7 linked regions of the Homo sapiens genome follow. The protein of the gene in region 2 purifies or fractionates together with the protein of the main gene of each other region. This does not show direct contact. Each region holds a gene or a part of one and is shown on either strand. Other genes may lie near its edges. The genes, in order: UGCG, SLC35D4, ANKLE2, RMND1, DNAJC11, HS2ST1 and FAF2.

Evidence for each region.
Region 1: the proteins of SLC35D4 (region 2) and UGCG purify together in Homo sapiens (affinity purification with mass spectrometry; one large-scale study listed by BioGRID and IntAct). This does not show direct contact.
Region 3: the proteins of SLC35D4 (region 2) and ANKLE2 purify together in Homo sapiens (affinity purification with mass spectrometry; one large-scale study listed by BioGRID and IntAct). This does not show direct contact.
Region 4: the proteins of SLC35D4 (region 2) and RMND1 purify together in Homo sapiens (affinity purification with mass spectrometry; one large-scale study listed by BioGRID and IntAct). This does not show direct contact.
Region 5: the proteins of SLC35D4 (region 2) and DNAJC11 purify together in Homo sapiens (affinity purification with mass spectrometry; one large-scale study listed by BioGRID and IntAct). This does not show direct contact.
Region 6: the proteins of SLC35D4 (region 2) and HS2ST1 purify together in Homo sapiens (affinity purification with mass spectrometry; one large-scale study listed by BioGRID and IntAct). This does not show direct contact.
Region 7: the proteins of SLC35D4 (region 2) and FAF2 purify together in Homo sapiens (affinity purification with mass spectrometry; one large-scale study listed by BioGRID and IntAct). This does not show direct contact.

The regions. Positions count from the first base shown.
Region 1 is NC_000009.12:111,917,314-111,920,813, reverse strand, and holds part of UGCG (ceramide glucosyltransferase), read right to left. Parts: intron 1-3,500. UniProt on the Homo sapiens protein: Participates in the initial step of the glucosylceramide-based glycosphingolipid/GSL synthetic pathway at the cytosolic surface of the Golgi.
Region 2 is NC_000018.10:23,350,962-23,354,461, reverse strand, and holds part of SLC35D4 (UDP-N-acetylglucosamine transporter TMEM241), read left to right. Parts: intron 1-2,172; coding exon 2,173-2,266; intron 2,267-2,467; coding exon of another isoform or gene 2,468-2,569; intron 2,570-3,500. UniProt on the Homo sapiens protein: Golgi-localized UDP-N-acetylglucosamine (UDP-GlcNAc) transporter that transports UDP-N-acetylglucosamine into Golgi lumen.
Region 3 is NC_000012.12:132,730,833-132,734,332, forward strand, and holds part of ANKLE2 (ankyrin repeat and LEM domain-containing protein 2), read right to left. Parts: intron 3,240-3,500; coding exon of another isoform or gene 3,184-3,239; exon of another isoform or gene 3,027-3,183; intron 1-3,026. UniProt on the Homo sapiens protein: Involved in mitotic nuclear envelope reassembly by promoting dephosphorylation of BAF/BANF1 during mitotic exit.
Region 4 is NC_000006.12:151,421,127-151,424,626, forward strand, and holds part of RMND1 (required for meiotic nuclear division protein 1 homolog), read right to left. Parts: intron 2,506-3,500; coding exon 2,399-2,505; intron 1,480-2,398; coding exon 1,415-1,479; intron 196-1,414; coding exon 119-195; intron 1-118. UniProt on the Homo sapiens protein: Required for mitochondrial translation, possibly by coordinating the assembly or maintenance of the mitochondrial ribosome.
Region 5 is NC_000001.11:6,639,317-6,642,816, forward strand, and holds part of DNAJC11 (dnaJ homolog subfamily C member 11), read right to left. Parts: intron 742-3,500; coding exon 586-741; intron 1-585.
Region 6 is NC_000001.11:86,917,635-86,921,134, reverse strand, and holds part of HS2ST1 (heparan sulfate 2-O-sulfotransferase 1), read right to left. Parts: intron 1-3,500. UniProt on the Homo sapiens protein: Catalyzes the transfer of a sulfo group from 3'-phospho-5'-adenylyl sulfate (PAPS) to the 2-OH position of iduronic acid (IdoA) or glucuronic acid (GlcA) within the heparan sulfate (HS) chain and participates in HS biosynthesis.
Region 7 is NC_000005.10:176,493,385-176,496,884, reverse strand, and holds part of FAF2 (FAS-associated factor 2), read right to left. Parts: intron 2,887-3,500; coding exon 2,801-2,886; intron 2,702-2,800; coding exon 2,610-2,701; intron 400-2,609; coding exon 222-399; intron 1-221. UniProt on the Homo sapiens protein: Plays an important role in endoplasmic reticulum-associated degradation (ERAD) that mediates ubiquitin-dependent degradation of misfolded endoplasmic reticulum proteins.

The sequences.
Region 1 (3,500 bases), on a different chromosome or scaffold from region 2:
GAACGACAAAGTCTGTTATATTTACTTCCAATGATAAGCATACACAAGTAAAAAGTAGAAATAAAATGTTTATAGTGCCTGTGAGCATAATAACAATTGTTTGCCCACTACCTATAATCTCAGCAAAAACTGCCAATAAAAAAATTTGTGGGCCAGGCGTGGTGGCTCAAGCCTGTAATCCCAGCACTTTGGAGGCCAGGGCAGGTGGATCACCTGAGGTCAGGAGTTCGAGGCCAGCCTGACCAACATGGTGAAACCCCGTCTCTACTAAAAATGCAATAATTAGCAGGCATGGTGGCACACACCTGTAATCACAGCTACTTGGGAAGCTGAGGCAGGAGAATCGCCTGAACCTGGGAGGCAGAGGGAGGTCGCAGTGAGCCGAGATTGCGCCACTGTACTCCAGCCTGGGCAACAAGAGTGAAACTCCGTCTCGGGGAAAATAAAAATAAAAGAAATTTGCAGTTGATCACAAAAGAACCAAGACTAAGGTTAATGAAGAAGGTTAGCTAATAAGATTTTTTGTCAAATGAAAAACATGTTTTCTTAATAATTAAGTCGATGAGGAAAACAATGTATATTTTCCTCATACTTTCTACCTACATACTGCTGTTATTATATATTCTATCCAATATCTACCTCTAATGATGACTGACGAAAATTGCCACTCAAGAGGTACTGAAACCAACTTGACAGTTACCTGGTCTCCAGAGACCAGATAAAAATCTGAAAATGGAAAGGGCCCTACTTCTACCACCCTCCTGAGATTTCCTTAAGAGCTGACTCTAAGTCACAGAAAGTGTCAGTCAGCCTCCCATCCAGACTCTCAAAACAATATTTGGCTGAGCCACCAAAAAGGCAATGACCTTCACAATAATGATTAGAGAGGTTAAGTGACTTTTCAAACGGCAAAAGTAACAACGAGCTTTCCTACTATAGGAGGCTGCTCAGCCAGGCTTGCTCTAAAGAGTTCCTTGTTTTTCCAAACATAGCATAGTTTCTTTTTTTTTTTTTTTTTTGAGATGGAGTCTCGCTCTGTCACCCAGGCTGGAGTGCAGTGGCGCTATCTCAGCTCACTGCAAGCTTGGCCTCCAGGGTTCACGCCATTCTCCTGCCTCAGCCTCCCGAGTAGCTGGGACTACAGGCATCCGCCACCACGCCCGGCTAATTTTTTGTATTTTTCTTTAGTAGAGACGGAGTTTCACTGTGCTAGCCAGGATGGTCTCAATCTCCTGACCTCGTGATCTGCCTGCCTCGGCCTCCCAGAGTGCTGGGATTACAGGTGTGAGCCACTGTGCCCAGCCAGCATAGTATCTTTAATGGTTTTTTTTGAGACAGGGTCTTTCACTGTCACCCAGGCTGGAGTGCAGTGGCGTGATCTTGGCTCACTATAGCCTCAACTTCCCAGGCTCAAGCAATCCTCCCACCTCAGCCTCCCGAGTAGCTGGGACTATAGGTGTGCACCACCACACCTGGCTAATTTTTGTATTTTTAGTACAGACGACGAGCTGGTCTTGAATGCTTGGGCTCAAGTGATCTGCCCACCTCAGCCTTCCAAAGTACTGGTATTACAGGCATGAGCCACTATGCCCAGCCTTTAATGCTTTTTTAATGCTATTTTGTGAGTATGAGTACATATGATGAAAGGAAATGTTTATAAGTAATGCAATTCCATAAAGTACAATAAAAAACTAATCTTAGCTTTTATTTTCCCCAGCAAGAGAAAACTTTGTAAAAATATAGTACTAGAAATATACTCAATGGGAAGAAAAATGCTATACTAGTGTTAAGTAGGGAGGTTATAAGTAAGGGAGGTACAGTCTGCCTTTATTCAGATGCAAGGTTTGAAGTGTTTTTTTTTGTTTTTTTGTTTTTTGTTTTTTTTTTTTGAGACGGAGTCTCGTTCTGTCGCCCAGGCGGGAGTGCTGTGGCGCGATCTCCGCTCACTGCAAGCTCCGCCTTCCAGGTTCACGCCATTCTCCTGCCTCAGCCTCCCGAGTAGCTGGGACTACAGGCACCCGCCACTGCGCCCAGCTAATTTTTTTTTTGTATTTTTAGTAGAGACGGGGTTTCACCGTGGTCTCGATCTCCTGACCTCGTGATCCGCCCGCCTCGGCCTCCCAAAGTGCTGGGATTACAGGCGTGAGCCACCGCCCCCGGCCTTGAAGTTTTAATTTTTATTGATTACACTGCTTAAACATAATTTTTAATTAAAAACAAATACTTTCTGATTAGCCAGAGTGTAAATGAGACTCATATTCATATTATCCAAAAAAAAGTTCAGACTCAAATACATAAGATTCATTTGTTTTTGATATTGGAAATTACACCAAATTGGAGGCAGCATTCCAAGTATTTTCTAAAGTATCAGATTTTAACCAGGAATCATTTTTCAGCTATCAGCTCTGTGTCTTCACAATTTGATGAGATATTTTATTTGCTAAGAATCCCTGTATTAAAATTGTTAAATCAGGCCAGGCACGGTGGCTCACACCTGCAATCCCAGCACTTTAAGAGGCGGAGGCAGGGGAATCAACTGAGGTCAGGAGTTCAAGACCAGCCTGGCCAACATGATGAAATCCTCTCTCTACTAAAAATATAAAAATTAGCCAGCGGTAGTGGCATGCGCCTGTAATCCCAACTTCTCGGGAGGCTGACACGGGAGAATTGCTTGAACCCGGGAGGCGGAAGTGGCAGTGAGCCGAGATTGTGGCATTGTACTCCAGCACAGGTGACAGAGCAAGACTCTGCCTCAAAAGGAAAAAAAAAATCAATTCTATAATTGCAAAAAAGAAAAAAAAATCATAGTTATGACAGGTTCACTGTTAAGAACTCTGATAGTTGATTTAGGTATTCTTCACATGGCCAGAATTTACTGAAGTAAAGCCAGCAAGCCACTTTAGACGCAGATTATTGACTATTACTGCTACTGCTTAATCTCTCCCCAAATCCCTTCTACGCTGGTGACAAATGAGTGTTCAATGCTGTGGAAAATGAACTGCATCACCTTTTCATTCTTTTATGTCTTCCCAAGGAATGAGTATCAGTATAAAAGTAGACTTGTAAGATGAATACAGCGCAGAGATCTTTCAGAGCAACTAGTCTAGTCTCACCAAAATTGAAACCTAGAAATTCAGAGCAAGTACCAGTAGCAGTAAATTTTCTTGCACATGTCCAAAATTAAGTAAAATTTTAAAACTTGAAGATATGTTTTATTATTTTCCCCCAAATGGCCTATGATAGTCCCAATCGAATATTAGAAGAGAAAGTTATGTCCAAAATGAAAACATTTCCATACTCTGGTAAAACGATGTTCACACCAGGCAAAATGCAAATATGAAAGGGCACTGCGCCTGGCAGTCACGTAAATGTTTATTTTGGGTCTCCTTGACTTCTTGGTGACACAAATGCCTTGTCTGTTCATGCTCAGATATGCGTGATTTCAGTGGTTTAACTTTAGTCTCCTGTGGAACATTTGCCATTGTATTTGGTTTTCACCA
Region 2 (3,500 bases):
TGCAAGCTCTGCCTGCCGGGTTCACCCATTCTCCTGCCTCAGCCTCCCGAGTAGCTGGGACTACAGGTGCCCGCCACCACATCAGGCTAATTTTCTTTTTTTTTTTTTTTTTTTTTGTATTTTTAGTAGAGACGGGGTTTCACCGTGTTAGCCAGGATGGTCTTGATCTCCTGACCTCGTGATCCGCCCGCCTCGGCCTCCCAAAATGCTGAGATTACAGGCTTGAGCCACCGCACCTGGCCATATCTCACTCTTTGTCTAGCTGGTCAAGAACACATTTCCATGAAGCTTCACGTCTTCCTCAGTTGTCCTGCCTCCAAATGCCAGGAAGAGTTTGGAGCTCCCTTTGCTATGGCTCTGGCCACACAGTGGCACTTTTGAAAATAGTTCCAGCGCAGGCAACTACATCTGTCCACTGCTGTGCCAGCGCCCTTGCTGGTCCAGAGATCTGAAGAGCCATGGAGACCTGGATTCTAATTGTACCTGTGCCCCAGTTTCATTGTTAATAAAGTGAGACTTTGGGGATAGGTAATCTTACTGTTCTAAAAGCCTCTGGTTTCCATTAAGATAGGATGAGGACTGCTATGATTATTTCTACTTTAAGGCAACTGAACCTGAGACAAAAAGGTGGGAAGGGGGATTTGGTTAAGGTTACGAGGGTCAGTAAGCACAGTGAGGAATAGAAATCCAGGCGCTGGGTGTGATTGGGTAGGCCTGCTGCTTACCCACGGGCCCTCTTTGCCTTTTGGGTGTGAGTAACTTGACATCTTAATCCATAGCTGTTCAGCCTCCCATGACTGCTGATGCAAATTGGAACAAACTTTGCAGGTCATTAGGGCCAAACAGGCTGAAATACACATGGGGAAACCTAATGCCTGTCTTTAGTCCTGCCCCAAGAATGTGGCTGTGAACTAGTCTAATCTAATGAAGTGAAGGTACACATTTCTGTGACATTTGGCCTTAGGTGTGTTCAATTAATTCAGTCTGCTTCCAATTCAACCTGACAAGCATTTAGTTAATGTGTACCGTAACTGAGGCACCATATTAGGCTCCGTTGAAAATACGAAGAGCAGCCCAAGATTGGGCTTTTCCTGCTCAGAGTTTATGATCAGTATTGGAGCTGCGCACCAGTGCCTGTATAAGGTCAGATGGAAGTGTGGCAGTCAAGGGTCTGGAGATGCAAATGAAGTACAACTCACAGGGCTTGCCTCTCTAGCTTGGAGTTACAACTGCAGTCATATCTCTTACTTTGCAATTTTCAAGTTCAAATAACAGTCACACTCAAACCACCACTTGCACATATTTGCATGAAGTCAGCCTTTCTCTCTCTCTCTCACATACACACACACACACACACACACACACACACACACACACACACACACTGTCTGTCTCACCTCTTCCCCAGTTGTCCTGCCTTCAAATGTCAGGAAGCATTTGGAGCTCCCTTTGCTTTGGCCTTGGCCACACAGGGCACTTTTGGAAATAGTTGCAGCACAGGCAACTACATCTCCATCCACTGCTGTGCCCTCGCCCTTGTTGGTCCACACTCCTGAATAGCCCCAAGATGCTGCCCCTTCCTCAGGTTCTCGAGTGGGGATCTTTCCATTCACACACATGTGTAGGCACCATTTCCAAAGCATACCTCCTATGGCAGGACAGCCTGGTTTGGGGGACTTCTGGCCTCAGCCATATGTGTCACTGAAGCCAGCCTTCCCCTTCAGATTCTTTTGAGCCTGGAGGCCAGTCCAGACTCTCTCTTCTCACATGGTGAGTTTCCCTTTGGAAGTCTTTTCCTGCCAGTTTATCTTGCTTGAAAAAAATTTAAGCTCTGCCTTGCCAAGCACCAAAACTCCAGAAGTTCTATGGGAAGGAACAAGAGGTGTTGTCCTCCACCTTTTTTTTCTTTCATGATTTAGCCAGAGGCCTCTGAAATTTCTTTGCACCATTCCTCTAATCAAAATTCTCCCACCATAGCTCCTTAGAAAAGCAGAGCTTAATGACTTTAAAATTTTTTTTATTTTCATCCAGAGATCACAGATCTAGAAAACACAGATGAGGTAGAGGTTGCATAATAATTTGAAATTGATTGGTAAAATGTAGCAGACACTAGTCAGCCATTGGCTAAGGGAAGACAAGCCTCACTAACAAGAGAATCTTTTCTCCTTCCAGTGGATTTTTGGGATTCTTTCTCATGTTCAGTACAGTGAAGCTAAAAAACCTTCTGGCCCCAGGGCAGTGTGCAGCCTGGATTTTCTTTGCTAAGGTAAGAGACAAGAGGGGTGGGAAATTCTCTCTCAAGAGCCTGTGTATCCAAAGATCTCAGAACCTGGGTAATGTGAAGTTGTTTGAGCTTCATGAGACCACTTCTAGGCGCTGTCCCTGAGCCTGATCCTTCCTTCATTCAGGTAACGATTTCTGAGGCCTGCTCATTTTATCAACATGGCATATTTCATCTTTCTTACAGTCCTGGAAGACAATCATGGATAGGCTCCTTATTTCCTTCCTGGAGGCTGTGCAGGTGTCCAGAGCTCAAGTGACTTACACAAGGGGACTCAGTCGATCCAAGGTGATAGAGAAAGGAAGATAGACAAATGGCCAGGTTGGGGCATTTCTATGAAACCTTAGAAAAGGGATTATTCTAAGAACAACCTCTGTGTATCCGAATGACTATGGGGGAAGCATAAGATAAAGTGGTGGGGGAACCACAAAGAAACAGAAGGAGCGGGGAAGTGGCTGTGGGATGGCCAATCTTAACTGAAACATGGTGGGGCCAACTTCTGTTGGCACGTTTCATTTCCTTAGTGCCTGTGAGGGAGGCAAGTTGTAGAGCTCTAGATGCTGCTTTCAAGGAGTAAGCCTCCTTAATTAATTAAATTTAATTTAATGAAATCATTATTTAACTTGGGCTTTTAGTCATCTTTGTGTTTTATGGGTTGAAGTTTCTCCAGAAAAAAAACCTCAAACATTTTGCTTTGAAAATAAGATTTTTAATGATATTTTCACCCCCATGCATTTTTTTGTTTTTGTTTTTGTTTTTGTTTTGTTTTGTTTTGAGACAGGGTCTTACTCTGTTGCCCAGACTGGAGTGCAGTGGCATGATCTCAACTCATTGCAACCTCTGCCTCCCAGGCTCAAGCGACCCTCCTGACTCAGCCTCCCAAGTAGCTGGGATTACAGGTGTGCGCCACCACACCCAGCTAATTTTTGTATTTTTAGTAAAGATGGAGTTTGACCATGTTGGCCAGGCTGTTCTCAAACTCCTGACCTCAAATGATCCACCCACCTCAGCCTCCCAAAGTGCTAGGATTACAGGTGTGAGCCACTGTGCTCGGTCCACATGGCCTATTTTTTAATAGCATTAATAATTCCAATTCTAGCAGAATGTAAAAAGTAGCTGAGATATTGATTTCTGGCATGACAGAGTGAGGAGGTTGATGAAACCTCTTCCCAAAAAACAGCTAGAAAGCTGGAAGAAAACTGTCAAAAACATCCATTTC
Region 3 (3,500 bases), on a different chromosome or scaffold from region 2:
AGCTGCCAGGCTGACTTTTCTTTCAAAGGCAGGGACATGAAAACGCCAAGGGCAGCCCAGGTGATGGGCGAGATGACTGCCCTGCACCCCCAGCCACCCTCCAGCTCCGATCTGCTGCGACCCCAGGGGCTCCGAGTGTCACAGTGCCCCAGAGGATCCCGAAGATCGTCCAGAACAACTCCATGAAGTAACCCTGCTGCGCTTTAGGTGTGAAGATAACACAGAAGAGCTCCCGGGCGCAGCACTGTGCGACAGGCAACAGAAATGTCCCGTTTGGTGTTCACGATGGTGGCCGCGGCCACAGGAGGATCCAGAACACTTGAGCTGTGGCTCCTGCTACTTAGGAAATGCCTCAACTTTATTTAATATTTACTAATTAAAATGTACATAGTCACAAGACAACACTGTAAATGAGGCCGCTTTACAGAAGTGAGTTCTGTGCCACCATCAGCTACAACACAGCAAGGTCAGACTTCAATGATTCCTGTATAACGACGGCACTGACGTCGCTCTAGTTCTGTGGTTCAGAGTCACAGGTCGTGACTGTTGAAGATTCACTGCTTCTTAGTTTAATGTATGTCAATCATTTTCATTTTCTATCATTCCAGGGAGTTTGTTTTATAAATGAAGTGTCTTGCGGGCTAATGGTTCTATTATGACCTTACACACACAAACTCACACAGACACACACTCACACACACACACACACAGTTTAAACTGTATATCTGCTTTAATTTGTATTTTAGCAGATTCGAATCTCTAGTTATTAGCAAATTTCTGTTTTTTTAAAAAAATAAATAGAGACAGAGTCTCACTATGTTGCTCAAGCTGCCTTCGAACTCCTGGGTTTCAGCAATCCACCCACGTTGGCCTCCCTAAGTGCTGGGATTATAGTGTGAGCCGCCACGCCCGGCCGCTGGGATTGCAGGCCTGAGCTCCCGTGCCCGGCCATCGTTGATGTTTTTATGAATCACTTTTAGATTTTGTAGATTAACCTCTTCCATCATGCTCTTTCCATTCAGTGCATCTGTGCTTTGGAAGCACTTTGCATCGTGGTGTCTGATATGCACCGTGTGAAGTGCTTTGCGTGTGCGTCCTGGTGTCTGATATACACCGTGTGAAGCGCTCTGCGTCCTGGTGTCTCATATGCACCGTGTGAAGCGCTCTGCGTCCTGGTGTCTGATATGCACCGTGTGAAGCTCTCTGCATGCTGGTGTCTGATGTGCACCGTGTGAAGCGCTTTGCGTTTGCGTCCTGGTGTCTGATATACACCATGTGAAGCGCTCTGCGTCCTGGTGTCTGATATACACCGTGTGAAGCGCTCTGCATCCTGGTGTCTGATACGCACCGTGTGAAGCGCTCTGCGTCCTGGTGTCTGATACGCACCGTGTGAAGTGCTCTGCATCCTGGTGTCTGATACGCACCGTGTGAAGCGCTCTGCATCCTGGTGTCTGATACGCACCGTGTGAAGCTCTCTGCGTCCTGGTGTCTGATACGCACCGTGTGAAGCTCTCTGCGTCCTGGTGTCTGATACGCACTGTGAAGCGCTCTGCGTGCTGGTGTCTGATACGCACCGTGTGAAGCTCTCTGCGTCCTGGTGTCTGATATGCACCGTGTGAAGCTCTCTGCGTGCTGGTGTCTGACATGCACCGTGTGAAGCTCTCTGAGTGCTGGTGTCTGATACGCACCGTGTGAAGCTCTCTGCATGCTGGTGTCTGATATGCACCGTGTGAAGCACTGCGCGTCCTGGCGTCTGATACGCACCGTGTGAAGCTCTCTGCGTCCTGGTGTCTGATACGCACCGTGAAGCGCTCTGCGTGCTGGTGTCTGATACGCACCGTGTGAAGCTCTCTGCGTCCTGGTGTCTGATATGCACCGTGTGAAGCTCTCTGCGTCCTGGTGTCTGATATGCACCATGTGAAGCACTGCGCGTCCTGGTGTCTGATATGCACCGTGTGAAGCTCTCTGCGTCCTGGTGTCTGACGTGCACCATGTGAAGCCCTCTGCGTGCTGGTGTCTGATATGCACCGTGTGAAGCGCTCTGCATCCTGGTGTCTGAAATGCACCGTGTGAAGCGCTCTGCATCCTGGTGTCTGATATGCACCGTGTGAAGCTCTCTGCGTCCTGGTGTCTGAAATACACTGTGTGAAGCGCTCTGCGTCCTGGTGTCTGATATGCACTGTGTGAAGCGCTCTGCGTCCTGGTGTCTGATATGCACCGTGAAGCGCTCTGCATGCTGGTGTCTGATACGCACCGTGTGAAGCTCTCTGCGTCCTGGTGTCTGATATGCACCGTGTGAAGCACTGCGCGTCCTGGTGTCTGATATGCACCGTGTGAAGCTCTCTGCGTGCTGGTGTCTGATATGCACCGTGTGAAGCTCTCTGCGTCCTGGTGTCTGATATGCACCGTGTGAAGCACTGCGCGTCCTGGTGTCTGATATGCACCGTGTGAAGCTCTCTGCGTCCTGGTGTCTGACGTGCACCGTGTGAAGCTCTCTGCGTCCTGGTGTCTGATATGCACCGTGTGAAGCGCTCTGCGTCCTGGTGTCTGACAGGCACCGTGTGAAGCTCTCTGCGTCCTGGTGTCTGATATGCACCGTGTGAAGCTCTCTGCGTGCTGGTGTCTGATATACCCCGTGTGAAGCACTGCGCGTCCTGGTGTCTGATATGCACCGTGTGAAGCTCTCTGCGTGCTGGTGCCTGATATGCACCGTGTGAAGCGCTCTGCATCCTGGTGTCTGAAATGCACCGTGTGAAGCACTCTGCATCCTGGTGTCTGAAATGCACCGTGTGAAGCTCTCTGCGTCCTGGTGTCTGAAATACACTGTGTGAAGCGCTCTGCGTCCTGGTGTCTGATATGCACTGTGTGAAGCGCTCTGCGTCCTGGTGTCTGATACGCACCGTGCAAGGCGCTTCGTGCCCTGGTGTCTGATATACACCAGTATTCTGATGTGCACTCGTCTTTTTCCTGAAAATATACCAAATCTAAAATATCAGGCTCAGCCAATGGAGTTCAGCTATTATGAGTTTTGAGAAAACGGCACAGAATGAAACTATATTAGATTTTGGATAATGCAAACACAAGCAGAAACAGCAATACTGCTCAAAGCGATGCCATTATTTTTCATGTACCCTCCCCGACACACAACCCATTTAACATTAACCTTCCCAGCACTCTAGTGGATCACGAGGTCAGGAGTTCGAGACCAGCCTGGTCAATACGGTGAAACCGCATCTCCACTAAAAAAAAAAAAAATACGAAAATTAGCCAGGCGTGGTGGCGGGCGCCTGTAGTCCCAGCTACTCAGGAGGCTGAGGCAGAAGAATCGCTTGAACCCAGGAGGTGGAGGTTGCAGTGAGCCAAGATTGCGCCACTGCACTCCAGCTTGGGTAACAAAGAGAGGTTCCGTCTCAAAAAATACTAACCTAAGGGAAAGTACCAGACCTTTACGTTAAAAACACCAAGAGACGAGAAACAGATGTGCGCATCCCGTCAGACCC
Region 4 (3,500 bases), on a different chromosome or scaffold from region 2:
AAAACAGCTACAGTTCCCATAAACGTGTAAATGTTTGCTCTTCACCACAGAACTATGGGAATGTTTTCTTGAGATTGTTAAATATATGAAATATTTTATTTAGAGAGAAAACTTTTACCTTAGAGCAAAGAGTTCACCGATTTTCTGCATAACTTCTTCATGAGATAGTTTCACTTTCTTCCCAGCTTTTAAAGCCTAGTTGAGAGGGAATCGGAAAAACCAAAAAACCATGTATCTCTCTTTCTAATAAGCATTAGGTCAACAGGGCAAAATCTGAAGTGGCATAATTTGGATCCTATGTAAATATTTTTTAGGATGGCTGTCTCCCAGATTAATGTCTTAACTCACCTTGAAATTTCATAATTTTATTAGGTAGAAATTGTATATTCTCTTTTTTCATTTCCCTTCTCATCAGCATTTTCAATGATATATACATTCCTAATCTCTTAGTAGAAAAGCAGGGCCTCCTTTCCGAAGTATAATTAGATTACTCTTTCACAATAAAGACACAGTTAATTACAATATGATGATTTTTAATGTATACTGAAATTTCAATATAACTTTATATGTATTTTTCATACCACTATTTTTCTCATAATTTAGCAAAACACTTTCTTAAATCAGGAAAAGTGGTCATAATTTCCATTCTCAGAGAGAAACATTTCACTTTTTTCTTTAATTCAGTTACATTAAAAATACTGCAACTGACGGGCATGGTGGCTCGTGGCCTGTAATGCTAGAACTTTGGGAGGCCGAGGCAGGAGGATCGCTTGAGCCCAGGAGTTCAAGACCAGCCTGGGCAACATGGCCAGACCCCATTTCAATTATATTAATATTAAAAAAAAAATACTGCACCAACAGAGGAAACAATTTGAAGTTTTAAAAAGTAAAAAGTAATCAATATGAAGTTTCTTAATTTGTCATTTTATATGTAACTGGGAGTTCTTAAGTTTACTGTAGTTTTCTTATTGTTTGTAATAATGTTGTTGTACTCCTAAACAATCGGCCCTCTATAAGTTCTGCAACTGCAGATTCAACCAACTGCAAATTGACAGTATTTTGAGAAAAAAGAATGGTTGCATCTGTACCGAACATGTACAAACTGTTTTTTCTTGTTATTATTTCCTAAATAATACAGTATAACAACTATTTACATAGTATTTACATTATATTAGGTATTTTAGGTAATCTAGAGATGGTTGAAAGTATACATGAGGATATGCATAGGTTATATGCAAATATATACCATTTTATATCAGGGATTTGGACACTGGTAGATTCTGGTATCCAGTGGGGTCTTGGAACAAATCTCCCATGGATACTGATGGATAGCTATATATTGTTATATTGGGAAATTCATATTTTTTACATATAAAAATCAATCCTTGAATAAGCATAAAATTGATATAATTACCTCAGGAATTGACTGAATAGATTCAATAAATTTATCCAGTGATGCTTCCCAAATTGCCAGTTTTACTGGGAAAAAAATTAATAATGGAACATTTCTTTATCATCATATTCACATGTATATAAAATACATAATTGCACAGCATCTTCACTACTATTTCAGTAATAGTTTAAGAAAAAGTACTAAAACCTTGAAAATATAATTTAAGAATAGTTAATTATCATAAAGGACAGAATTAAAGTGGATAGAGGAAACTGAATCGCTTTCCATGCCCTATTGGAAGACCAAAGCTACATTTAGTAGAACTCTTGATTTTCTAGTATTACATCTTGGAAACTGAGGAGGGTAGGGTACACCTTGATACCATGGGTAGCTCTGCAGATAGGGCGCGACTAAGACTTTCCTGGCCTCCCCTTCACTCCTCAGGACTAAGAGTAAACCTCAGAAATCTCCGAAGCCCCTCAGAGTGGGATGGACAGGACGCTGCAGCAGCCACCTAAGGTAGACTGCTGGCAAAAGAAATTCTTAAAGAACTTGTATAGTTTTATTCGGGATGTGGATCTTTCAGAACAAACTTATAGCCACTGTGACTCTGGGTCCCATTCCTATGGAACACTAGAGTATGTTTTTCTACACTGGGACCTGTGCCCAGTCACACAAGGCTGGGCTTCTCTGTCTGGATTAGAGACTATCTAAGAATAACAATCGCATAGAGAGAAGAGAAAAAAACAAAGGCTAATATAATCATCATCTAAAAAATACTTTTGGAGAGGTTAAGCTTTATTAATACAATTAATAAGGAATGAGTAACTTCAGCACAGTACTATCTTTTATACTAGATATTTTTTCTGATGGAGGGAAAAAAAGGAAAAGGAATGCTAAGGCTTTGTTGAGTATTCTGAAAATATACCAAAATCGTGACTATTTAAACTTCCCTCAGTGAAATGACAACTGTAGTACCCTATCCCATAAGCAGTAGTAACTTACCAGAAAGGCATAGAGCATTGGAGAAAGCAAACTTCTCTAGAATGGCATCATCTAAATCCAGCTCTGAATTTAACTTGATTTCCCCCCTGTGAAGTTTTGACTGTCCCCTGTGAAAAGCAAAAAGATAATACCTTCTAAATCTTAAAAAGCACTTTAACTTTTCCTTTGAAAAAGACACCATATCATCTTTCTGGAGGTCATTTTGACAATTTGTATCAAGAGTGTTACAAATGTTCTCATATCCTTTGGTCCAGGTAATTCCCTTTCTAGGAGTTTATCCTAAGGAAATAATCTAAGATGCAAAGAAAAATTTGTATACAAGAAAACTTTTTTTTTTTTTTTTGAGACAGTCTCACTCTGCCGCCCAGGCTAGAGTGCAGTGGTGCGATCTCAGCTCACTGCAACCTCAGTCTCCTAGGTTCAAGCGATTCTCCTGCCTCAGCCTCCCTAGTAGCTGGGATTACAGGCATGCGTAACCACACCCAGCTAATTTTTTTTGTATTTTTAATAGAGATAGAGTTTCACCATGTTGGCCAGGCTGGTCTTGAATTCCTGACCTCAAATGATCCACCCACCTCGGCCTCCCAAAGTGGTGCGACTACAGGTGCGAGCCACCTTGCCCAGCTGAAAACTTTTAAAAAAATGGTCAGTGTTGGCTGGGCACGGTGGCTCACGCCTGTAACCCCAGCACTCCGGGAGGCCGAGGCAGGTGGATCACGAGGTCAGGAGATTGAGACCATCCTGGCTAACATGGTGAAACCCCGTCTCTACTCAAAACACAAAATAAAATTAGCCGGGTGTGGTGGCGGGCGCCTGTAGTCCCAGCTACTCGGGAGGCTGAGGCAGGAGAATGGAGTGAACCCGGGAGGCGGAGCTTGCAGTAAGCCGAAATCACGCCACTGCACTCCAGCCTGGGAGACTGAGCAAGACTCTGTCTCCAAAAAAAAAAAAAAGGTCAGTGTTTAAGAGTAAAAAATTAGGAAATAAACCAAATGTTCAGTAGGGGTTGGCTCAGTAATAGTCACTCCACACAAGAAAAACTTAAAAGTGTGTTTTGGAAGGATAGTTAATAAAAAGGAGAACGTTCACAGTAAATTTCTAT
Region 5 (3,500 bases), on a different chromosome or scaffold from region 2:
GAGGATCAACACTTTTTTTTTTTTTTTTTTTGAGACCGAGTCTTGCTCTGTCACCCAGGCTGGAGTGCAATGGCGCAATCTAGGCTCACTGCAACATCCACCTCCCAGGTTCAAGCAATTCTCCTGTCTCAGCCTCCCAGGTAGCTGGGATTACAGGCACGTGCCACCACGCCCGGCTAATTTTTCTATTTTTTTAGTAGAGACAGGGTTTCACCATGTTGGCCAGACTGGTCCTGAACGCCTCACCTCGGGTAATCCACCTGCCTCAGCCTTCCAAAGTGCTGGGAATACAGGCGTGAGCCACCACGCCCAGCCGAGGCCCAACACTTCTATAAACTCCAGTCCTTTCTGAGAGTAAGATTTACAAACGAAGAGATAACAGCAGTCCAACTACGGACAATGAGGAGAAATAGTTAACATTTACCAATCGTGACCCAGACATCAGCCTAAGTGCTTTACATGCATTACTTAATTCAGGTTTCCTCATCACCCGACGCAGGAGGCTCTGTTATCCTCTCCATTTTAAGGGTGAGGAAACTGAGGCACAGGGCTGGCTAGTGACATGCCCATGACGTGTCAACTCACTTCTCTTTCTGAGCCCTGAGGTATGGTTTGATGATCAGACGGTGCATGGCAAAGTAGACCACTAGAGGCCCCACGGTGGCATAGAACATGGCGCTGGGCAGAAGCTGGTCCGTCAAGTGAATAGGGAAGAAGTATGTCTGACTGGCCCTGTTGAGCCTGGGGAAAAATACAAAAAAAAAAAAAAAAAAGCCAAGATGAATCAGGTTTTCCAGGGAAGGGCAATGGGGTGTCAGGCACAGGAAGAGAACTTGTGCTGCGTGCAGCTGCGAGTTAAAGGAGCCTGCAGTCTGCTCCTTTCACAGTCCACCACCTTCTGGCCTCCCGTTCCAAAGTCTGGCTGATGGATCTGACACTGTGACAGAAGAAAGATCCCAGTGTCTGCTGACCTCAAGCCAAAGCAACAAGAGGAACACTTCACGGGGTCAACGTCCCCTACAGGTGCATTCAGTCATAGGCTGGAGAGGACAGGAATGGGCTCCTCCAGATGTCACTGGAGAGTCACATCTCAGTTCTTAACTGAGGTTTCCAAAGAAGTTAGTGAAGACTTCAAAAGTTAGTCAGTTAAGGAGGTTCTGCTTCCAGTGGTGGCTGAGTAAAGTAGCTCCTATTGGACCAATGTGTAAACTCTGGACCACATATAAAAAATTTGGCCAGGCGTGGTGGCTCACGCCTGTAATCCCAGTACTTTGGGAGGCTGAGGTGGGCGAATCACCTGAGGTCAGGAATTTGAGACCAGCCTGGCCAACATGGTGAAACTTCATCTCTACCAAAAATACAAAAATTAGCCGGGCGTGGTGGTACCTGTCTGTAGTCCCAGCTACTCGGGAGGCTGAGTGAGGCGGGAGAACGCTTCAACCCAGGAGGCAGATTGTACCACAGCACTCCAGCCTGGTCAACAAGAGGAAAAGGACTGAGGATGCATGGACAGAATCTCAGAAACCCGTGGAAGAGTGTTAAGTTTAATATATTGGTAATTAGAGCCCCAGTGAGGAAAAGGAAATTTACAGATGCAAGAAGTTTAGGAAACCCCAAGCATCATAAATACAACAACAGCCTTATCTATGTACATCACAAACTGCTGAAAAGCCAGAAAAAGAAAACATGCTGAGTAGCCACTGACAATACCTGATCACACTCTTCCAGAATAAAAGCTCTTCCAGAATAAAAGCAATTCCAGAATTGATAAAGAACACTCAAAACTTGGCCAGGCTCAGTGGCTCACGCCTGTAATCCTAGCATTTTGGGAGGCTGAGGCAGGAGGATCGCTTGAGGTCAGGAGTTTGAGACCAGCCTGGCCAACATGGTGAAACCCTGTCTCTACTTAAAATACAAAAATTAGCTGGGTGTGGTGGTGGGCGCCTGTAATCCCAGCTACTCAGGAGGCTGAGGTAGGAGAATTGCTTGAACCTGGGAGGTGGAGGTTGCAGTGAGCCAAATGCACTCCAGTCTGGGGTGCAAGAGCGAAACTCCGTCTCCAAAAAAAAAAAAAATATATATATATATATACACACACACACACACACACACACACAAACAGAGACAGGTTAAATGTGAATGGGTAAAAAAAATAAATAGTAAGCATAAGAAGACTAAAAAAGCTATATAGTAACAGATAAGGTAGACTTCAAGACAAAAATTTTTTTTTTTTTTTGAAGTGACAGGGTCTCACTCTGTCATCTAGGCTGAGGGGCACAATCACAGCTCACTACCACCTTGAGCTCCTGGGCTCAAGTGATCTTCCTGTCTTGGCCTCCCAAAGTGTGCGCGCCACTGTACTGAGCCTTCAAATATTATCTGAGGAGAGATGGCTGACGCCAGCTCTAATCTAGGTAAGTGATTTGGCTTTGTTTCCAAAACTGAGCTGTGATCCACTTTGATTCACTCACTGAGTTCCTCTCAAGTACCACGATGGGTTTTAGGTTCTAGAAGTGCGGGTGAGAATAAAATGGACCAAGTCCAAGAGCTTATGTCTGATGAGGAGTGCAGGAGATGGCCCTTCAGATGGAGACTGGCTCGTTGGAGATTGAACATGGCAAACATGGTGGGGGGGATCACCTGGGGCAAGGGGAAGGGCTACTATGTTATACAAGGTGAATTAGGGGACATTTGAGCAGACAGCAGATACTTACAGGGAGTGAAGGAAATGGCCACGTATTTATCTGCAGACTGAGAAATAGCAAAGGCCACCTCATAAGCAGGAGGGGGCCTGGTGTGTGCCAGGAATAGCTCCAGGGGGTCAGGATGGCTGGGGTTGGGGTAGAGAGGAGTACTACATCACGGAGGGCATTGTAGGCTCCAAAGTCTCTGAAGGGCTTTGGCCTCCGACTGGAATTGAGGGAACCTCTGAGGTTTTAGGCAGAAGACAGACGTGAACTGCCTTCAATTTTAAAAAGGACTCTCCTACGGAAAGCAGACACACAAGGAGGGAGACAGGTTCCGTGGGGAGGGTGCTGTGTAACTAAGACAAAGATGCTGGCCGCAGTGAGGTTGAGAAATGGCGAGACTGGGGATACAATTTTGGAGTACATGTTCAGGAGATGATTTTGAGATATGTATGATTTGGAGTGTGGGAGAGAAAGAGATCGAGGCTGACTCCAAGGTTTTTGGACAGAGCAAGTAGAAGGCCAGAGCTCTCATTTACTGAGATAGGAAAGGAGGCTGGGCGCTGTGGCTCACACCTGTAATCCTAACACTTTAGGAGGCCGAAGCGGGAGAACTACTTGAAGCCAGGAGTTCAAAACCAACCTGGGCAACCAAGTGAGACCCTGTCTCTATAAAAATAAAATAAAAAAAGAGAGAGAGATGGGAAAGACTTCGGGCAGAGCAGGTTCTGAAGGTTCTTCGTTTCTGGGGGCACAGGGAGGGATCGAGTTCTGTTTGGATACGTGACATCTGAGATGCTGTTAGGTATCCAA
Region 6 (3,500 bases), on a different chromosome or scaffold from region 2:
TTTTCACGTTCACCTGGAACATTTACCAAGATAGTTTTTTTTTATTTGTAATTGACAAAACTGTATATATTTATCATGTACAACATGTTTTAAAACATGTATATATCATGGATGGCTAAATCAAGCTAATTAAGACAACATGCATTACCTCACATACTTTTTTTTTTGGTATGGTGAAAACACTTAAAATCCACTCTCTTAGCAATTTTCAAGAATACATTGTGACAGGAGAATGAGGGAAAGCTTCGGGAACCATGTCTTTAGGTAAGTGAGGCAACAGAATCAGGTGCACAAATGACCGAACAGGAGCACTGACAGTTACCATCTATTGTTAACAGGCAGAAAGGCAGAATACGTAAGTACAGGTACTGGTAGGTGGGTAGATCTTAAAAATAACTAGGCTATAGTGAACCATGATTATGAAGTTCATCTATAAGTACATCCTTCAAAAATGGTCTTCTGGAGAGCAATCTTTGAACATTCATTATTATTTCAATTTCTCTAAGTGCCAAAAAGCTATTAGAAGGCCTACCAGAGTGGTGGACAGACATCCTGGAATTATCTTAATTGAGATCAACTATTTCAGGTGACTACTCCATGGCACTAGACATCCTATTCAAGACTAAGTGAGGCACCAATTACCAATTCTAGAATAACTGTATTCCTATTAACCCAAAGTCCTCAAAACAGTAGCTACTATGAGGTTTTCCAAATGATTTCAGAAGTGAGGAAATCTAGCATTCTCTGGAACATCTTACAGGTATTGCTGCATGGTTTCAGGAACTTACTTGTAAAAACTACCAAATTCCAAAAAGCAGTCTCAACCTTGGCCCTGGAATTAGTTGTTTAGTCTAGTAGAGTTTTAAGAACATAATGACTAACATTAATTCTCACCAATGGATGATTACATAATCCATTCTCAATTATTTTCCCCATGTAAAAGATTATTCCTAATGTGCTCATAAATCCATATAGAGATGTAAGAATACAGTCAACAAATATTATTTACAATGCTAAAACCCTATAGAAAATAAAGTTACCAAGCACATAGTTCTATCACTTATGTGAGAAAATATTTCACTGCACTGTTCGACCAGTCAATATTAGCAACAAGTGCGCTCTTGAAATTCGGGAAGAACTACTTTTTACCAGCCACAAATTCTGACATTTTATAGTAACGAGTCACAGTTAAATAGTTTTCATTTGGATTCCCTGTCCTTTTCCATTTCTCACTAGAAAATTAAGTCTACATTTTAATACAATGAAGTATTAACTTCATTTGAAGTTGAAAAACTTCTCTTTTTCACAGGTAATAAGCTTATCTCCTAAATTTAACTCACAATCTGCACGTTATGTTACTAAAAACAAAAAAAAGTCCACTAAATATGAAACATCTACTATAAATCTGTGATCCTTGCCATTAAAGGAATCACATACTCCTTTGCAAATCTGATGAAAGTTATGTATATAATTTCAGGGAATTCACTGATACCTTGAAGCCTATTTATGGGTCCCCGAGGTTTAAAGAATCTCTGATTAATGGAAAATAGCATCCAAAATTGATCCAAGAACATATGAAAACTTAGTATGTGATTAAAAGAAGGAATGTTAACATACAGTTGGAAAAAATGATTTACTGAGAAAATCATGATAAATCTCTGTAAACATACAAATGGTTTAAAGAGCCAAATGTAATAAACTATAAAATACTATAATAAAATACAGAAAATGTACACAATCCTGGCTCTGGGTAAGTCTTCCTAAGCAAAATATGAAAACGACTTCCCTAAATTGATAGATTTAACTGTGTGTATTTTAAAACTTCTATATGAGCAAAACACACCATAAAGTCAAGAAACAAATGGCAAACTTGGACAAAAACAAATAAGAGGCCGGGTGCAGTGGCTCATGCCTGTAATCCCAGCATTTTGGAAGGCAGAGGGGGGCAGATCACTTGAGGTCAGGAGTTCAAGACCAGCCTGGCCAACATGGTGAAACCCTGTCTCTACTAAAAATACAAAAATTACCTGGGCGTGGTGGCACGTACCTGCAATCCCCGCTACTTGGGAGGCTGAGGCAGGAGTGAGCCGAAATCGTGCCACTGCACTCCAGCCTGGGTGACAGCAAGGCTCATCTCAAAAAAATAAATAAATAAATAAATAAATAAAAATAAAAAAAATTTAAAAAAGACATAGGATAGATAAAGGATTACTAATTCTAATATTTAAAAAAAAAAGTAAACCACCCAATAGAAAAATAGAAAAAAGTAACAAATAAAAGGGCAATAAACATGTAAAGATGTTCAACCTACCTAGAAATTAGAAGGTAAATTAATTGAATATATCATTTCACAGCTTCACACTGGCAAAAATTAAAAGCTGATTATCTTCTAGTGCTAATGAATGTGTGCTGGCAGTGTAGATTACTACATCTTTTGAAAAACAAAAAAATGTTGAAAAGTAGATTTTTAAATCTGTTAAATTATAAAATATGTATATTCTTTGTCCCAGCAATCTCACATACAGAATTCATCCTAGCACAAAATGACATCAACATGAGTTAAACGGACACATAAGGATGTTTCCTATAATTGTTTATAATACCAAGAAAGAAAAGAAACACTCAAAAAAATTATATATATATGTATATATACACACGCACACACACGACAGATGGGGGACAAACTGAATGTCCGTTACTAGAATAATGGCTTAATAATTTATGATACATGCATACTTTGGAATATTATACAGCTATTATTAATAGAATGAGTAAGTCACATCTATATGTACTGACCTGGAAAGATGTGTATAACATTCAAGGCAAAAAAAGCAAGCCGCATTGTAATATGTGGACTACAATGCCATATTTGTTTTTTAAAAAATAAAAATAAAAAGCTGTATTACTGAATTTTTTTTTTTAGGAATTCCTAATTAGTGAATTTCCCAAGTAGTCAATGAGTACACCTCAGTTTTGAATACATCTATTGCTCTATTAGAAGTCTCACCATCAAAATACTGTACTCTCAAATCAAGGTATATTAAAGCCACTATCAGACAATACTATCCTTTGGAATCTTCTACAATGAAAATGATAATAACTACTTTTAAGGACAAAATGTTTAATAGGTTTTTTATGCCAAAATAAAAATGCTTTTTTAACATTGTGATTTTGCACGTATGGAAAACAGCTAGATTTTTCTTTCCTATAGTAAAAATAAGCTATCTAATTCAGTTGTTTCATTGGGTAACATAATTATGTTCATTACATGAATCTAAACAAGGGGCAGACGTTACATTAAACCAATTCCTTTGTATCAGAAATTCAATTTTCTCTGAATGATATTCATTCTTAGCAATAAATGCAATTAAACACTGATATTACAATTTTAAAACTCTATTCAAATACCTAAATCTCAGCGTAATGTCAATATAAAGTCTTAAGCAGCCGGACATAATTAAAGGAGCACTTGATTTGGAATCATACATACCTGGGTTGCA
Region 7 (3,500 bases), on a different chromosome or scaffold from region 2:
CACCCAGCCCTTGTCTTTATTTTGAACATCTCTAAGAACAGATTACCTGATATAGAGTAATTTAGGTCAAAGTATGTAAATATTTTGACAATAAATGGGCAAAGCTAAAAGCTAATAGCGGCCTGATGCACAGAAGAAGTCAGGATTGGTAGAGCCCCAGAGGTCAGCCCTCCAAATTTACAACTGGTCTCTCTCTGTTCCAGAAGGGAACTCCCTTGTACCTTTCTAGGCGTTCTGACACCAGGTAAGTCTGGTTAGCATCCATGATAAATGTCAGTTGGTTAATGAGGTCATCAGGTTGAATGAGGCCTTCTAGCCGTCCCACCACAGTCATCCTTCGATCCTTCAGCATAATCATGGCCAGGAATGGATAGGTGTTCTCTCGTAAAGCCTGTGAGACTGATAAAAAGACCCAACAGATCAAGGGCAGGACTTGACGGTGAAAAAGATCAACCCTTAGACTTTCCACAATGAGTGAGAGAGAACTGTTTTAATCCTGGTTGGGGAAGACGAGAGGTATCATTTAGTCTCCGCTTTTTCCCCGCCTCCTAGTTTCTTTCTTTTCTTTTTTTGAGCCAGGGTCTCACTATGTTGCTCAGGCTGGTCTCCAGCTCCTGGGCTCAAGTGACCCTCCCACCTCAGCCTCCTGAGAAGCAGGGATTACAGGAGTGTGCCACCATGCCCAGTTCCTCCCAGTTTTGTAATCTTTTGTTTTTGTTATCAATTTGCATGCCTATCCCTAGGTGCTTGACTAGAATAGGACAGGCTTTCCTGGTGGCGGTGTGGTTGTTGTGATGATGCCAGGGAAGGCTGCAGAGTTTAAGGATAATGTCTACTTGATGGTACAAAAAGGATCTATAAAGAATCTGGCACAGTTTTTCCCTGTACAAGGGCTCAAACCTAAAAGGGCACAAGGCTGCAAGTCTCAGCCTGATGATACTGATAATAATCTCCATCATCATTTTTTTTTCTCTTGCCTAATCCTTTCCTTATCCTTTCTCCCCACGTAACTTTTCTCCACCCTTAAAAAGGTTAGTTTTTCTGTTCCAAAGAAGCTTATTAATAGAAAGTTGAGGCTGGGCTGGTAGCTCCACCTTTAATCCTAGCACTTTTGGGAGGCGGAGGTGGTTGGATCACTTGAGGTCAGGGGTTTGAGACCAGCCTGGCCAACATAATGAAACCCCATCTCTACAAAAAATACAAAAATTAGCAGGGTGTGGTGGTACGCGCCTGTAATTCCAGATAGGCGAGAGGCTGAGGCAGGAGAATCGCTTGAACCCGGGAGGTGGAGGCTGCAGTGAACTGAGATCGCACCACTGCACTCCAACCTGGGTGACAGAGTAAAACTTGGTCTCAAAAAAAAAAAAAAAAAAATTGGTGTCCAAATGACCAAGATTTTTACCATAACAGAGTTTTACCTATGTTTTCCTTATGGTGTGAAATAAGAGATTTTATAAACTTCTATTAAAAAAAAATCCTTACCTTCCTTCTATTCACAACCTCCCTTCTGCCCCCTGCAAAGCCATATTAGAATGGCAAAACGCATGCAGGAATTTGGATGTTTAAAAACAATTAGGCTTAAGATTCAGACTCTGGGATGCAGGGACAACATCTGCCACATCTTTGGTTCTCAAGACATGGCACAGTATGTGGCATGCTAATATAAACTCAAAAGTTGCTGGATAGAAGTAGCCACAAAAATGACTACATTTTTCCTCACTGGATGCCTTCGTATCTTTTACTAACCGTCTAAAAATACTTATCTCCAAAGAAGAGTTATTGTCAGCAAAGATCTGAACTTTCCAAATCCATATCAGCACTCAAGGTACTCAAACAACTGACTCACTATGCAAGGGCTCTGTTAAAATCGTTGATGAAAAGAATAAACTCTTCAGTAAAAAGCCCATTAAGATTAAAAGCAAGCTGCTAGCCAAGACTGGGTATTTCTATGAATGTGGCAGGCTTTGGCAATGCTGAATGTGAAGAACGGGCTTTAGAATCTGGCAGACCCGACTGTACGCTACAACTTGCTAATTATGGCGGGGCACAGTGGCTCACACCTGTAATCCCAGCACTTTGGGAGGCTGAGGTGGGCTGCTCACTTGAGTCCAGGAGTTTGAGGCTACATGGTGAAACCCCATCTCTACTAAAAATACAAAAAAATTAGCTGGGCGTGGTGGTGCATGCCTGTAGTTCCAGCTACTCAGGAGGCTGAGGCAGGACAATCGCTTGAACCCAGGAGGTGGAGGTTGCAGTGAGCCAAGATCGCACCACTGCACTCCAGCCTGGGCGACAGAGCAAGACTCCATCTCAAAAAAATTTTTTTAATTAATTAAATAAAAACAAAAAAAATAAAACTTGCTAATTGTGTGATCTTCAGCCAGTGGCTTGAACTCTCTGAGCCTATTTCCTAAACCATAAAGCAAAGGTAATATGACCCCCCATCTCTCAGGACTGCTGAGAGGATTAAATGAGACAATATAAAATAGCAACTAGCGTCGTATCTACCACAGAACAAACACACTTGTAATAAATGGCATGGCATGTCTTTCCAGACTATTCCAAAGATACTCCAACAATCTCAATGAGGCAGAAGAAACATAACTTACCCCTGTATCCCTCAGGTTTGTTTGTAGAGCATGCCCAGAAGAGCATCCTAGTGTTTATTAGTGAAATAACTTCAGGTGCACAGAGTGTGTTGCTGTGGAAAGGTATGAAAAGGATATGAGAACAACTTGCTGACTATAAACTGTCACCAGAAAGAGTCAGAAAAGAGAAGGAAAATAATCAATCCACTTACCGACAAAACTCATCAGAGTCCTGGTGATCATCTCCATGAAGATAAACCAAAAGAAAGCGAAGCTCCCTTTTGGCATCGTTAAGTGCCTGTGAGAAAGAGAAGGTCACTCACTATTAAGAAGACTGTGCCTTGAGCTTATATTTAAGCTAAGGGTCCTAATGGATACAGTTATGTATTTAGGAACAAAAGGAAAAATAAGGAAAAAAGGTGAGCAAGAAATCAGAAAATTCCTGAGCTCCTACCTTCACACCCCTGGCATTGTTCTCCCTATAGAAACTCCACGCTAACAAGCTTTAATGAAAAGGTTTTAGTGTTGTTAGGATTCAAACTTAACAGACACATGAGAGTAGACAGGCTTACAAACACAGGTTCCCAACAAACCACAGAAAAGTCAGCTGCACCCACAGTCTAAGGAAGATAAAAACAGGAGAATCTGACCATATGAAAGGGAGGTGAGAATTTTTCTACTTCACAGCTACAACATCCTTGTAAGTAAAAAATAACTGCGAAGACAACCCTGATCCCAGGCCACATATCGAGTAGGAATGATGGACTGTACGATCCAAAGGCATTCTAAAGAGCATAGGGTGTAAAAGACTTTCAAAGACAAGGCTAGCGCCGAAGACTCCTGTGCGTGCTCCTGCATGTGCGTGCTCCTGAGCACATTACACTGTACGACTGCTGACATGGTCAAGGGTGG